Homo sapiens: one gene and its partners. The protein of the gene in region 1 purifies or fractionates together with the protein of each later gene. This does not show direct contact. Each region holds a gene or a part of one and is shown on either strand. Other genes may lie near its edges.

Region 1 (2,260 bases):
CTCAGTGTCCTGCCCCCTGCTTCCACCCGGTGTCGACAGCTGCACGGTCCACCCCACGCCTGCCTTTCCATCGTTCCTCATCAGCCCTGTGATCTTTCCTGTGGCCCTGCTGTGCTGGTGCCCTGTGAGGTCCTGTGGACACAAGAGACTGCACGGGCCACACCCCCAGCTGGGTGAGTCCTCTCCCTCCTGGGTACTCTGGACAGTAAAGAAAGATGGACACGTGGGCTCCGTGGAGCATGAGGTAGTCCAGGACCTCGGCGGCCACAGGTCCTGCCTCCCTGCTTCTCGTGCCCTCCCTCCCTTTGGGTCTCTGCTCCACCTCGGTAAACGCTTCGTTCCCACCCCTCGAAGGGTAAATCGAGCTCCTTGGTGGTAAAGCACCCACTGCCCCTAGTCAGAGGGTCCCTCCTCTCTGATGTCATGGTGCCCTGGTCTGCCTGGTAGAATTTTAGCTGCTTTATAACCTGGTCCTGAAATGAACCACTGGGAAGAAATAGGGTAAAATGAACACACAGCTGCCACACTGCATCCCAACCCTGTGTGACCCTATCACCGCAGACTTTTGTGGCAAGATGACAGCATCTCAGTTTGCTTGAGAAGCTTATTTTTGCCAAGGCTGTTACCACCAGGCAGGCACCAGAGCTCGGTTCCACTCACAGCAGAACACAAGCAGTGGCCCTGTGGATTCCCCTGTAAGAATGTCCGGAGGGAATGCTTCCCCCTCGCCAGGATCAGACTCTTGGCACTCTCTGTGATACGTGAGACCTTGAGGAAGGTTCCTCCGTTCCCAGAAGCGGAGCAATGTGCTGGTGCTGAGAAGTGGCCCCTCAGGGCCACCCTGGGCAGGGTCTCCGGTTTTATTCCCCCGTACCTTCTGCTTCATCACGCAGATCCTATCCTGGGTTTGGGTGGGGAAGTCTCTCTGCGGGGGCCGGTGGGGCAGCATCTCCAGGCTGGGAGGCAGAGCTGGTTCTGCCACGATGTGTCCTCCCCGTGAGGACCCACTCCCACGCCTGTCCCTGCCACAGTGGGCCTCCTGATGGTCCTCCTTCCTCCAGGTCACCGGCACGATTGCTGTGGCCCCTCCTCTGTGGGTGTGGGCTTGGACGCCTCTCCCCTCCACCTGCACACCCCTTGCAGCACACATGAGGCTTAGCTATTAAAGAGGCTGGAGGACAGTGCAGCGCTTTAACCCTGGCCCTCACAGGGAGGTGTCTAGGTCTTTCTTCTCCCCTCCAGATGGAAGCATTTGGGTAGAGGACCTAGAAGAGGCTAACACTCCCTGAACTATGAACCTAGATTGGTTTCTAAATCTGCTGAGAGAAAAATTGAACTTGAAGTGACATTCCTTCTAAAGTAGACATCATCCTACATGGCTCTTCTACAGCTGTCTTTCACCCTAACCCATGGTGTGCCCTGGGCTGTCGCAGGCCCCCAGCCCCTGCCCAGCCTTTCTGAAGTGCCAGGCTTGGGGCTCAATGAATGAGCCTTGTTCTAAAGCAGAAAACAGTTCTGTTCCAGTCAGGGTTCAGCTGCCTGCGTCTTGATGAGATCTCTGTTCAGGATTGTGTCCCCTGCTTCTCTCTCCCTTCTCCTTTTCAAGATCACAGGTGAAGACAAGGGGGTGGAAAGTTCTACCTAGATTGCTGCTATCTTAAGAATGTGGACTTTGGAGCCAGATTGTCTGGGTTTAGTCCCTGCGTCTGCTGCTTACTAGGTGTGTGACTTTGGGCAAATACCTTGACCTCTCTGTGCGTCCGTTTTCTTGGCTGTGAAATGATGTATCATCTCAGAGCACCCATCCCCTGGGGTTGTGTGGGGAGTAAGTAAGCCGGTCTAGTATGGCGCCTGGTACATCCTCAGTCAATAATATCAATGTTGGCTGTGGTGAGGACGTAGCAGAGGATGGTAGAAAGAATCTGAGGCTTGGGGTCCAGAGCCCTGGGTTCAGGTCCCAGCTCTGCCACTTGCTGGTGTAGTGATGCGGATTCTGCACCCCGGAATGTGGCAGTGTTTGCATGCAGGCTGGCTGTGAAGACCCAGGGCAGCAGGCCGGCAGGCTGGTTCCCCTGCACACCGGACTAACTCTGTCCTCTCTCTCCACAGGCACACATTCTGGCAGTTCCGCCATGAGAACCCCCAGACCCGGGTTGGGGGCCCGCCCCCCGAGGGGCTGCCGGGCTTCAACAGCGGGGTGATGTTGCTGAACCTGGAGGCCATGCGCCAGTCCCCGCTCTACAGCCGCCTGCTGGAGCCG
Region 2 (3,572 bases), on another chromosome or scaffold:
CCTTGCTGACTGTCCTGTGCAGGTAAGCTGGCCCTTTTCCATCCAGCACATATTTTTCAGGGGTTACAAAGCCCTATTTTACAGGGGTGCCAAATGTGAAAAAGCACCGTCCCCGTCCTCAAGCAACTAAGGCTGTAAAAGATGGAGGCAAAGCCACACTGAGAGAGGACCAAAGCTGCATGCTAGGACAGGGCTGGGGAAGGCCAGAAAAGCCTTGGTCGTGAGGTTGGCATTATGTGGGCTGCAGAGGGTGCTCCGGGTTCTGATGGCTGGAAATGTGCAAGGAAGGTATTCCAGGAGGGAACTGCATGAACAGGGACTTGGAGGCAGGATTGTCTGGGGCTTGTGGAAGGTGCCATAAATAATTCAGTTGAGCTGGAGTTGGGTGCTCGTGCAGGCATGATGGAGAACGGGATTGGAGAGTCGGGGGTTGGTGGGTATCAAAAGTTGGTTGGTGGAGTTTACCCTTTGGCTGGGCAGGTGCGCTGTTGCAGATGTGATGGGGATTAAGATTGGAAGCGTGTTGACATCACCTGAGCTAGTCACCTGTCTTTGGTGGAGGCTGAGTGCGGATGGTGGGCAAGAGACGGTAGAAGAGGCAGATTATGTGGGGGAGGCTGCATCAGACCCTCCTATGCCCCCTTCTTCTGGAATAAACCACATTCTTTGTGCTTCTCTTTGAAACCACTTTTCAATGTTGCAGCCTTTTTTGTGGATTCCCCTGGCATCTCCCTGTGCCTTCTTTCAGATTAAGACGATTTCCAGTTCCTGGGGGACCTGGATAGAGAAGCCTGACCTGTGTGCTGGGTGGCTGAGGGACACAGATGGCGTGGTGGAAGGGTGCATACGGTCAACCTGGAGGGAGGCCAGCTCCCACACAGGGTGTTAGGACCCGTCAGAATATGCGCCTGTCACTGAAACGGACCACCGGTGGCTGACCCTCTCGCTCCTCTTGCACAGCTGTATCCAGCATGCTCCAAGGCCACAGCTCTGTGTTCCAGGCCTTGCTGGGGACCTTCTTCACCTGGGGGATGACAGCAGCTGGGGCAGCTCTCGTGTTCGTATTCTCTAGTGGACAGGTGAGTTGCCTTGCTTTGGTTCTGGATGTTGGTGGGGAGCCCGTTGGTAAAGGGGCACTGTCCCACTCCATGGAGCAGGTTTGTAGACTTTTCAGTGCCCCTGGCCACACCCCCAGGCATTGTGTACTGGGGTTTGTTCGCTGTCTTCTTATTTTCTCACCTTCTCCCTGCCAGGCCGGGAGAACAGATGTCTGCTTGCTGTAGACACCTTCATGCACCATCATCTCCCCTCTTGACCCTTGACAGCCTGACTTGAAGGGAATAGGAAGTGAGAAGCCCAGTTATTGAGGCTTCGTTAGCCCGCTGCCTAATTTCTACCTGCCATGTAATTTCTTTTCTTTTTTCTTTTTTCTTTTTTTTTTTGAGACAGAATCTTGCTCTGTTGCCCAGCCTGGCGTGCAGTGGCAGGATCTCAGCTCTCTGCAACCTCCACCTCCCGGGTTCAAGTGATTCTCCTGCCTCAGCCTCCAGAGTAGCTGGGATTACAGGCATGTGCCACCACGCCTGGCTAATTTTTGTATTTTTAGTAGAGGTGGGATTTCACCACTGGTCTCAAACTCCTGACCTCAGATGATCCACCCACCTCGGCCTCCCACAGTGCTGGGATTGCAGGTGTGAGCCACCGTGCCTGGCCTGCCATGTAATTTCTTTCAGGCCTGGAGCAAGTGGTACTATGCGTGACCGAAGAACATTAGATTTCAGGTGTAACTGTCCTCCCCTGTGGACTTGAGTTGGGTGGGATGGTTGGAAAGACCTTGGGAGAAGAAGGGGCATCTGTTCCCTTTTTTTTCAACCCATCTCCAGGTTGTTTCCTTTCCCCTTGGGATGAATATAGACAGACCCATGTCCCTGGCCCCCTGCAAACTCTTACTTCTTTCTCCTACATCTTCCTTGTATCCTACTCCCAGTGCCCTCACTCACTGTCATGGCCCCACAGCCTATCTCTCCCTCCTCCCACAACCCCATCCTTACACCCCTTCTACACGCTCTACCTATAGTCCCACATACCCACACTTGCACACATACCCATACCCATATGCCCTCCCCACACCTCTGCACAACCCACACTCACCTCATATACCTGAAATTGCATTCTTTTCTCCAACCCAGATCACCCTCAGTCCGCAGCCCTGGAGCCATCCATGGGTATCTTGATGAATGCACAATCCCTGCATCGATCACCTCGGTAGCCTGAGACATTGTAGAAACGGCAAATGAATAAGTGACTTAAGATCTAGTTCAACATGTTGTGAGGGAGATCTGGAAATGAAAACACCTTTAGGAAGTTCACAAGTCAGGCACTCTTGTGTTAGAGACCAGTACAGCAGGCCTTGATTTCAACAATAAAATCCCGACCTCCCTTGCTGCGCTGCACTGCCCCCGGGAGCTGATGGGTTGGAGACTGGAAATCAGAAAACACACAATCCAGAAACATGGTTTATCTGGAACCTAGGTATATAAGATGCCAAGATAAGTCAAATTCACAGAGACACATTGTAGAATGGTGATTGCCAGGGGCCACAGAGGAGGGCAGAAATAAGTTATTCTTGAATGAGTACAGAGTTTCAGGGTTTTTTGTTTTTGTTTGTTTTTTTTTTCTTTAGACAGAGTCTTGCTCTGTCACCCAGGCTGGAGTGCAGTGGCGTGATCTTGGTTCACTGCAACCTCTGCTTCCCAGGTTCAAAAGGTTCTTCTGCCTCAGCCTCCCGAGTAGCTGGGATTACATGCATACACCACCACGCTCAGCTAATTTTTTTTGTAGTTTTAGTAGAGACGGGGTTTCGCTGGTAACCCCATCCGGCCAGGCTGTTTTATTTATTTATTTTTTATTTTTTTTGAGCTAGAGTCTTGCCCTGTCACCCAGGCTGGGGTTCAGTGGCATGATCTCAGCTCACTGCAACCTCCACCTCCTGGGTTCAAGTGATCGTCCCACCTCAGCCTCCCAAGTAGCTGAGACTACGGGTGTGCACCACCATGCCCAGCTAATTTTTGTATTTGTAGTGGAGATGGGGTTTCACTATGTTGCTCAGGCAGGTTTTGAGCTCCTGACCTCAAGTGATCTGCCTGCCTCGGCCTCCCAGACTGCTGGGATTACAGGTGTGCACCATCATGCCCAGCTGAGTTTTAATTTTGTAAGGTGAAAAGTTCTGTAGACCACATGGCTTCTTTCACTTCAAAGAATGTCCATAGAGCTCATCCACGTTATAACATGTGCCAGAATTTCTTTTGTTTTTAAGGCTGAAGACTATTCCATTGTATGTACATACCACATTTTGTTTATCCATTCATCTATGGATAGATAGCAAAAAAAAAAAAATCTGTATTGAAATAGAAGATGCTTATGGAAAAATGCACATTTTATTAGGCTGGTGCATTTTATTAGGTTTGCACCAACCTAATATAAGTATGCAGCTTGATAACTTTCCACAAGTGCTCATGAAACTAGAGCCCAGATCAAGAAACAAAACAGTACCAGCTCCTCACCTCACAGCC
Region 3 (3,572 bases), on another chromosome or scaffold:
ACCTTAGAGTAGAGCCTAGCACAAAGTAAGTGTTGAATAAATATAAGCATAAATTATCTAATGATTAACCTGAACTCCATAAAGTTTGTAGAACTATCTGACTGGTAATCTTTATTATGTCCACTATTGGTGAACATGTCATATGAGATAGTTTTATATCATTTTCTTAATATAGAGGAATAGGTCAGATATAAAAGCTAAAGCCAAATATACACATTAACATATATACGTACACAAAAATTGTTATATTTTGTTGAATGGATTGCACCTTGGGCCACATTATTTCTTCTATTATTTAACTCCTTAATTATGTGTTAAACTGTGAGTCTCACCTTTTTTGCAAAGATGTAGAGAAGGTATCAGTAATGGAATCTTTATATTCTGAAAATAAATATAACAGGTGGTTATGTTTTACTTGTGTTATTTCACTACCATCTTGAAAAGCATTCAGATAATTTTCCTTGAATATGGGGAATTTGTATTTTTTTAAATACGATATTCATTCAGTACTTCAATAGTTTTATGTAGATTTCCTTGGTCATTATATGGAGCCTCATTGTGTCCATGCAGATGCTAAAGCTATTCCTGACACTGTTTGGTGTTATCTTAATATTATTTAAGCAAAGAATGGTGATCAACTACAACTTAGCAATTTGTTACTTTTTAAACAGCTCTTTAAAATAAATGAAAAATTAAATGAGAAGTATTTATAATTAGAAAAGTACATAGATAAAAATTTGGAACCTACAGAATTTAGGAAATCAGCCTTTGCACAGGTAAGTAATTTTTGTGTGTTCACTGTTTCACATGGGTACATTGTTTCCCTTTTACAGCACCAGTGCATCAATGGCCAATGGCTTTGTCATGTGCCTCTACATTTTCCCAGCTATAATTTTCAGTTCCTCAAAATGCCATTCCTGAAGGTTCTGTGTATGTGTTTTCCTTAAATACCATTACATGTACATCCCTTAAGCCTGGTTCTCCATGACTTCAGCCCTGGCATTGGGTAATTCATTAATTCTTGTGAAACCTTGCCTTTAACTGCCTTCCAACCATCCCCAGTGCTCACCTCCAGCACACTTTAGACACATGCCTATTGTGTAATTGTTAGTATAGCTTTTTTCTTCACCCTGATCACAAACTCTTTGAGGGCAGGGACCATATCTTTTTTCTAGATGCCCAGAACCCACCATAGGGCCTCATATTTAGAAGTTCAGTAAAATGCTTCCATTGACCCTTTATGACCACAATAGTTTTACTCACTTTCACAAGGATTTGACACTGTGGTATGTAGTTAGTTCTCGCTTCATTCAAAAATTAATGAAACAGGGCTGGGCGCAGTGGCTTACGCCTGTAATCCCAGCACTTTGGGAGGCTGAGGTAGGTGAGCGCATCACCTGAGGTCAGGAGTTCTAGACCAGCCTGGCCAAAATGGCAAAACCTTGTCTCTACTAAAAATACAAAATTAGCAGGTCATGGTGGCGCATGCCTGTAATCCCAGCTACTTGGGAGGCTGAGGCAGGAGAAATCACTTGAACACGGGAGGCAGAGGTTGCAGTCAACTGGGATTGTACCACTGCACTCTAGCCTGGGCAACAGAGAGAGACTGTCTTAAAAAAAAAATTAATGAAACATAATGCTGCTCTAAAAAATGAATATTGGCTGGGCACAATGGCTCATTCCTGTATTCCCAGCACTTTGGGAGGCTGAGGCGGGTGGATCACCTGAGGTCAGGAGTTCGAGACCAGCCTGGCCAACATGGTGAAACCCCATCTCTACTAAAAATAAAAAATTAGCTGGGCATGGTGGCATGCGCCTGTAGTCCCAGCTATTCGGGAAGCTGAGGCAGGAAAATCTCTTGAACCCAGGAGGCGGAGGTTGCAGTGAGCCAAGCTTGCACCAGTGCACTCCAGCCTGGGAGAATGCAGTGAGCTGAGATCACACCACCGCACTCCAGCCTGGGTGACAGAGTGAGACTCCATCTTAAAAAAAAAAAAAAAAAAAAAGAATATTAACCTTAAATAAAGTTTAAAAAGTGGGAAAACATCACAATAAAAAGAAGTGCTAGTTATACATTGTTTACTTTTCTGCTACACTGTATTCCTTGAATTCTTAACAATTTTTGCCTTTGTTTTACAGGTGAAGCCTTGAAAGGAAAGGTCACAGTTCACAAGAATAAGAAAGATCCACGTTCTCTCACCGTGACCCTCACGTTGAATAATTCAACTCAAACTTATGGTCTCCAGTGAAACAGCCATAAAAGCACACTACCTTGTAGTTTTTAATGTGGGGGTAGAGTGGGTCAGCAGGAGGGAGCTGGTTTTATGTGAGCAGATGGATGGATGATGGACCCTTTCCTAATGAGCCTCCTCAATAAGAGAGAAGTTCTCATTGTGGGAATCTGACATAGTTCAGCTGAGGAAGAGAATCAGCTGATCCTCATGGTCTGCCACGTAATCATTTTCTTAGACGTTTGCTCCACCAGATTTAACCAAATGTAACTCCCACATTGAGTTTATCTATATTGAAAATCATTTACATTGGCCTATATTTGGAAGAGAGATAGTCTTTTGTTTTTAATAAGTTTCTTACTATAAATTTTAAACAAATTGGTTAGTTATTTGGATATTTTATTAAACTAGTAACACAGGTACTACACATTTTATTATGGACTCCTCTGAGGAGGAGTTTTTAATTGTATTTGCTAGAAAATCAGGATGTAATAAAGATTTGTATAAAAAAACTAAAATATGGAAAAGAGCTTCAGCCTTCATATACAAATCATATATGCAGACAGCCTAGTTGATTATCTAGCATACTTAGGGTTCTCATTTTGTAGTTTCTTCCCTCTTTGTGACTATTCCTTAGCCTTATAGATTTCTAGTACTGCCCAGGAAATCTAATTTCAATACATTTATCCTAGGTTTCATGAAAGTTTTTAAAGATTGGGATAAATATGTACTTATTTACTAACGTATTATCTTTTTCAAACCAGATTTATGTGCAAAGGTTAAACATGTAACTGTTACTAAGCAGTCTATAAAGTTGTCATTTACAATTACTGATTCAATTTGAAATGTAGAATAAAATTTTAATAAAATGTATCAACTTATAAAATATTTTAAAAATATTGATATTATAAAAGTTTTCAATAAAATATATCAAACAACATTATAAAATATTTCAACAGGGTATGGTAGCTCATACCTATAATCCCAGCATTTGGGAGGCCAAGGCAGGAAGATCACTTAAGCCCAGGAGTTTGAGAGCAGCCTAGGCAACACAGGTCTGTACAAAAAATTCTTTTAAAAAAATTAGCCAGGCATAGTGGTGCATGCCTGTAGTCCTAACTACTTGGGAAGCTGTGGTGAGCAGATTGCTTGAGTCCAGGAGTTGGAAACTACAGTAAGTCAAGATCGTGCCACTGCACTCCAGCCTGGGTAACAGAGAAAGACTCTGTCTCTAGAAAAGTTAATTAATTAAAAGTAAAAAACAGGGCCAGGCATGGTGGTTCATGCTTATAATCACAACACTTTGGGAGGCCAAGGCAGGAGGATTGTTTAAGGTCAGGA
Region 4 (3,572 bases), on another chromosome or scaffold:
GTGGTGCGATCTCGGCTCACTGCAACCTCCCCTTCCTGGGTTCAAGCAATTTTCTTGCCTCAGCCTCCCAAGTAGCTGGGACTACAGGTGCGCGCCACCACACCCAGCTAATTTTTGTATTATTAGTAGAGACGGGGTTTCACCATGTTGACCAGGATAGTCTCAATCTCTTGACCTCGTGATCCACCTGCCTTGGCCTCCCAAAGTGCCGGGATTACAGGTGTGAGCCACCGCGCCCGGCAGGATTTTTTATTTTTTAATTTCTTAAGTTTTTATGTATTTGCTTATTTTTGGTGGGTTTCTTCAGACTAGAGTATTCTTCTTTTTTTTTTTTTTTTTTTTAGAGATGGGATCTTGCTTTGTTTCCCAGGCTGAACTGCAGTGGTGTGGTGTGGTTATGGCCTTTTTTTTTTTTTTTTGAGACAGTCTTGCTCTGTTGCCCAGGTTGGAGTGCAGTGGCACGTTCTCGGCTCACTGCAACCTCTCCCTCGCCGGCTTAAGCAGCTCTCATGTCTCAGCCTCCCGAGTAGCTGGGACCATAGGCGTGCGCCACTTCACCCAGCTAATTTTTGTATTTTCTTTTTAGTAGAGATGGGCTTTTGCCATACTGGCCGGGCTCTTCTTGGAGTTCTGGCCCCACGTGATCCGCCCACCTCGACCTCCCAAAGTGCCGGGATTACAGGTATTAGCCACCACGCCCAGCCTGCTCATGGTTTACTGCAGCCTCAAACTCCTGGCCTCAGGGGATCCTCTGGCCTCAGCTTTCCCCATAGCTGGGACTACAGGTGTGTGCCACCAAACTCAGCTAATTAAAAAAATTTTTGGTTTTTTTGAGACAGAGTCTCACTTTGTCACCCAGGCTGGAGTACAGCGGTGTGATAATGGCTCACTGCAACCTCCAGCTCCCAGTTTCAAATGATCCTCCTGCCTCAGCCTCCCAAGTAGCTGGGATTACAGGTACCCGCCACCACACCCGGTTAATTTTTGTATTTTTAGTAGAGATGGGGCTTCACCATGTTGGCCAGGCTGGTCTCAAACTCCTAACCTCAAGTGACCCACTCTCCTTGGCCTCCCAAAGTGCTGGGATTGCAGGCGTGAGCCACCGCACCCAGATGAAAAATACATATATATATATATATATATAAAATAAATAATAAAATATATATATTAAAAAATATATATGAAAATATATATATTTGAGACAGAATCTCGCTCTGTTGCCAGGCTGGAGTACAGTGGCTCAATCTCAGCTCATTGCAACCTCCACCTCCCAGGTTTAAGCAATTCTCCTCCCTTAGCCTCCTGAATAGCTAGGATTACAAGTGCATACCACCATGCCCAGCTAATTTTTGTATTTTTAGTAGAGACAGGGTTTCACCATGTTGGCCAGGATGGTCTCGATCTTTTGACCTCGTGATCCACCTGCCTCGGCCTTCCAAAGTGTTGAGATTACAGGTGTGAGCCACTGTGCCCTGCGACTTTTTAAATTGTAAATAATTACTCAAGAGTTGAAAATGGCTTGGGAGAAGGGTTGGGCAGGGAACTGCAGAGCTACATGTACACAATTTAAATATCAAAAATATTTACTTGACAGTTTTTGGCTGAGTGCGGTGGCTCACTCCTATAATTCCAGCACTTTGGGAGGCCGAGATGGATCACTTGAGGTCAGGAGTTGGAGACCAGCCTGGCCGACGTGGTGAAACCTTGTCTTTACTAAAAATACAAAAATTAGCTGGACGTGTTGGCGCACACTTGCAATCCCAGCTACTCAGGAGGCTGAGGCAGGAGAATTGCTTGAACCCAGGAGGTGGAGGTTGCAGTGAGCCAAGATTGCACCATTGCACTCCAGCCTGGGTGACAGAGGGAGACTCCCTCTCAAAAAAAAAAAAAAATTACTTGACAGTTTTACAGTTTTTTAACTTTGACAGTTTTTTTTTTTTTTTCTTTTTGAGACAGGGTCTCACACTGTTATCCAGGCTGTAGTGCAATGGTGTGCTCACGGCTCACCACAGCCTTGCCTCTGGAATAGCCGGGACCACAGGTGCATGCCACCATGCCCAGCTAATTTTTGTATTTTTTTGTAGAGACAAGGTTCTGCCAGATTGCCCAGGATGGTTTTGAACTCCTGAGCTCAAGTGATCCGCCTGCCTCGGCCTCCCAAAGTGCTGGGATTACAGGCGTGAGCCCACTGCACTGGCCTGAGAAATTTTTTTTTGAGACGGAGTTTCACTCTTCTTGCCCAGGCTGGAGTGCAATAGCGCAATCTTGGCTCACTGCAACCTCCATCTCCTGGGTTCAAGTGATTCTCCTGCCTCAGCCTCCCAAGGAGCTGGGATTACAGGCGCCCGCCACCACGCCTGGCTAATTTTTTGTACTTTTATTAGAGATGGGGTTTCAAGATGTTGGCCAGGCTGGTTTCAAGCTCCTGACCTCAGGTGATCTGCTCACCTCGGCCTCCCAAAGTGCTGGGATTAAAGGCGTGATTGATTTTTTTTTTTTTTTTTTTTTTGAGATGGAGTCTCATTCTGTCACCAGGCTGGAGTGTAGTGGCATGGCACGATCTCGGCTCACTGCAACTTCCGCTTCCCGGGTTCAAGCGATTTCCTCTGCCTCAGCCTGCTGAGTAGCTGGGACTATAGGCGCAAGCCACCATGCCCAGCCAATTTTTTGCATTTTTTAGTAGAGATGGGGTTTCACCATGTTGGCCAGGATGGTCTCGATCTCCTGACCTTGTGATCTGCCTGCCTCGGCCTCCCAAAGTGCTGAGATTACAGGCGTGAGCCACTGCGCCTGCCCTGATAAAATTTTTTAAAAGAAAATTATCTTGTTTTGTCTTGCAAATGCTGTAATTTTCTGGATATAGACATTCAAAAGTGTTTTCTGCTTCTGTTTTTAGCCTTCCTAATGATGGTGATGAAAAATATGAGAAGACCATAATTAAAAGTGGAGATCAGACGTTTTACAAATTCATGAAGCGAATTGCTGCTTGTCAGGAGCAGATTTTGAGGTAAAAAAAGGCACAGTTCCTTTTATTGTTTTCCTTGATTATAAAGGAATACATATTAGTTTGGAAAACACAGGAAAATATGAGAAAAGCAAAACCTACAGTATTCCCCAAACCAAGAGAGAACCTAATACCTGCTTTATAGGACCTAATACCTACTTTATAGGATGTGTAGGAGGATTCAGTAAGGTAAAGTGCACTCACTTGTCTAACAAATACTTACGAAGTCTATTCTGCATGCCAGTTGCTGGTATTTGTAGGTGCTGCAGATATAGCAAGAAACGGCACAGATGAAGTCCATGTTCTCATAGCCTTTATTATTATTATTATTTAATTTTTTTTTTTCTTTGAGAGGGAGTCGCGCTCTGTCGCCCAGGCTGGAGTGTAGTGGCGTGATCTTGGCTCAATGCAACCTCCACCTCTTGGGTTTAAGCCATTCTCCTGCCTCAGCCTCCCAAGTAGCTGGGATTACAGGTGCCCGCCACCCTGCCCAGCTGATTTTTTTGTATTTTAGTAGAGATGGGGTTTCACCATGTTGGCCAGACTGGTCTCGAACTGCTGGCCTCAC

What was found.
Region 2: the proteins of XXYLT1 (region 1) and SLC39A11 purify together in Homo sapiens (co-immunoprecipitation; one large-scale study listed by IntAct). This does not show direct contact.
Region 3: the proteins of XXYLT1 (region 1) and PRMT3 purify together in Homo sapiens (affinity purification with mass spectrometry; one large-scale study listed by BioGRID and IntAct). This does not show direct contact.
Region 4: the proteins of XXYLT1 (region 1) and PDCD2L purify together in Homo sapiens (co-immunoprecipitation; 2 studies listed by BioGRID and IntAct, with this or other methods). This does not show direct contact.

The regions. Positions count from the first base shown.
Region 1 is NC_000003.12:195,069,961-195,072,220, reverse strand, and holds part of XXYLT1 (xyloside xylosyltransferase 1), read left to right. Parts: intron 1-2,109; coding exon 2,110-2,260. UniProt on the Homo sapiens protein: Alpha-1,3-xylosyltransferase, which elongates the O-linked xylose-glucose disaccharide attached to EGF-like repeats in the extracellular domain of target proteins by catalyzing the addition of the second xylose.
Region 2 is NC_000017.11:73,086,164-73,089,735, reverse strand, and holds part of SLC39A11 (zinc transporter ZIP11), read left to right. Parts: exon of another isoform or gene 1-22; intron 23-960; 5' UTR 961-971; coding exon 972-1,079; intron 1,080-3,572. UniProt on the Homo sapiens protein: Zinc importer that regulates cytosolic zinc concentrations either via zinc influx from the extracellular compartment or efflux from intracellular organelles such as Golgi apparatus. May transport copper ions as well.
Region 3 is NC_000011.10:20,506,165-20,509,736, forward strand, and holds the end of PRMT3 (protein arginine N-methyltransferase 3), read left to right. Parts: intron 1-2,139; coding exon 2,140-2,249; 3' UTR 2,250-3,174; downstream 3,175-3,572. UniProt on the Homo sapiens protein: Protein-arginine N-methyltransferase that catalyzes both the monomethylation and asymmetric dimethylation of the guanidino nitrogens of arginine residues in target proteins, and therefore falls into the group of type I methyltransferases.
Region 4 is NC_000019.10:34,410,841-34,414,412, forward strand, and holds part of PDCD2L (programmed cell death protein 2-like), read left to right. Parts: intron 1-2,896; coding exon 2,897-3,007; intron 3,008-3,572. UniProt on the Homo sapiens protein: Over-expression suppresses AP1, CREB, NFAT, and NF-kB transcriptional activation, and delays cell cycle progression at S phase.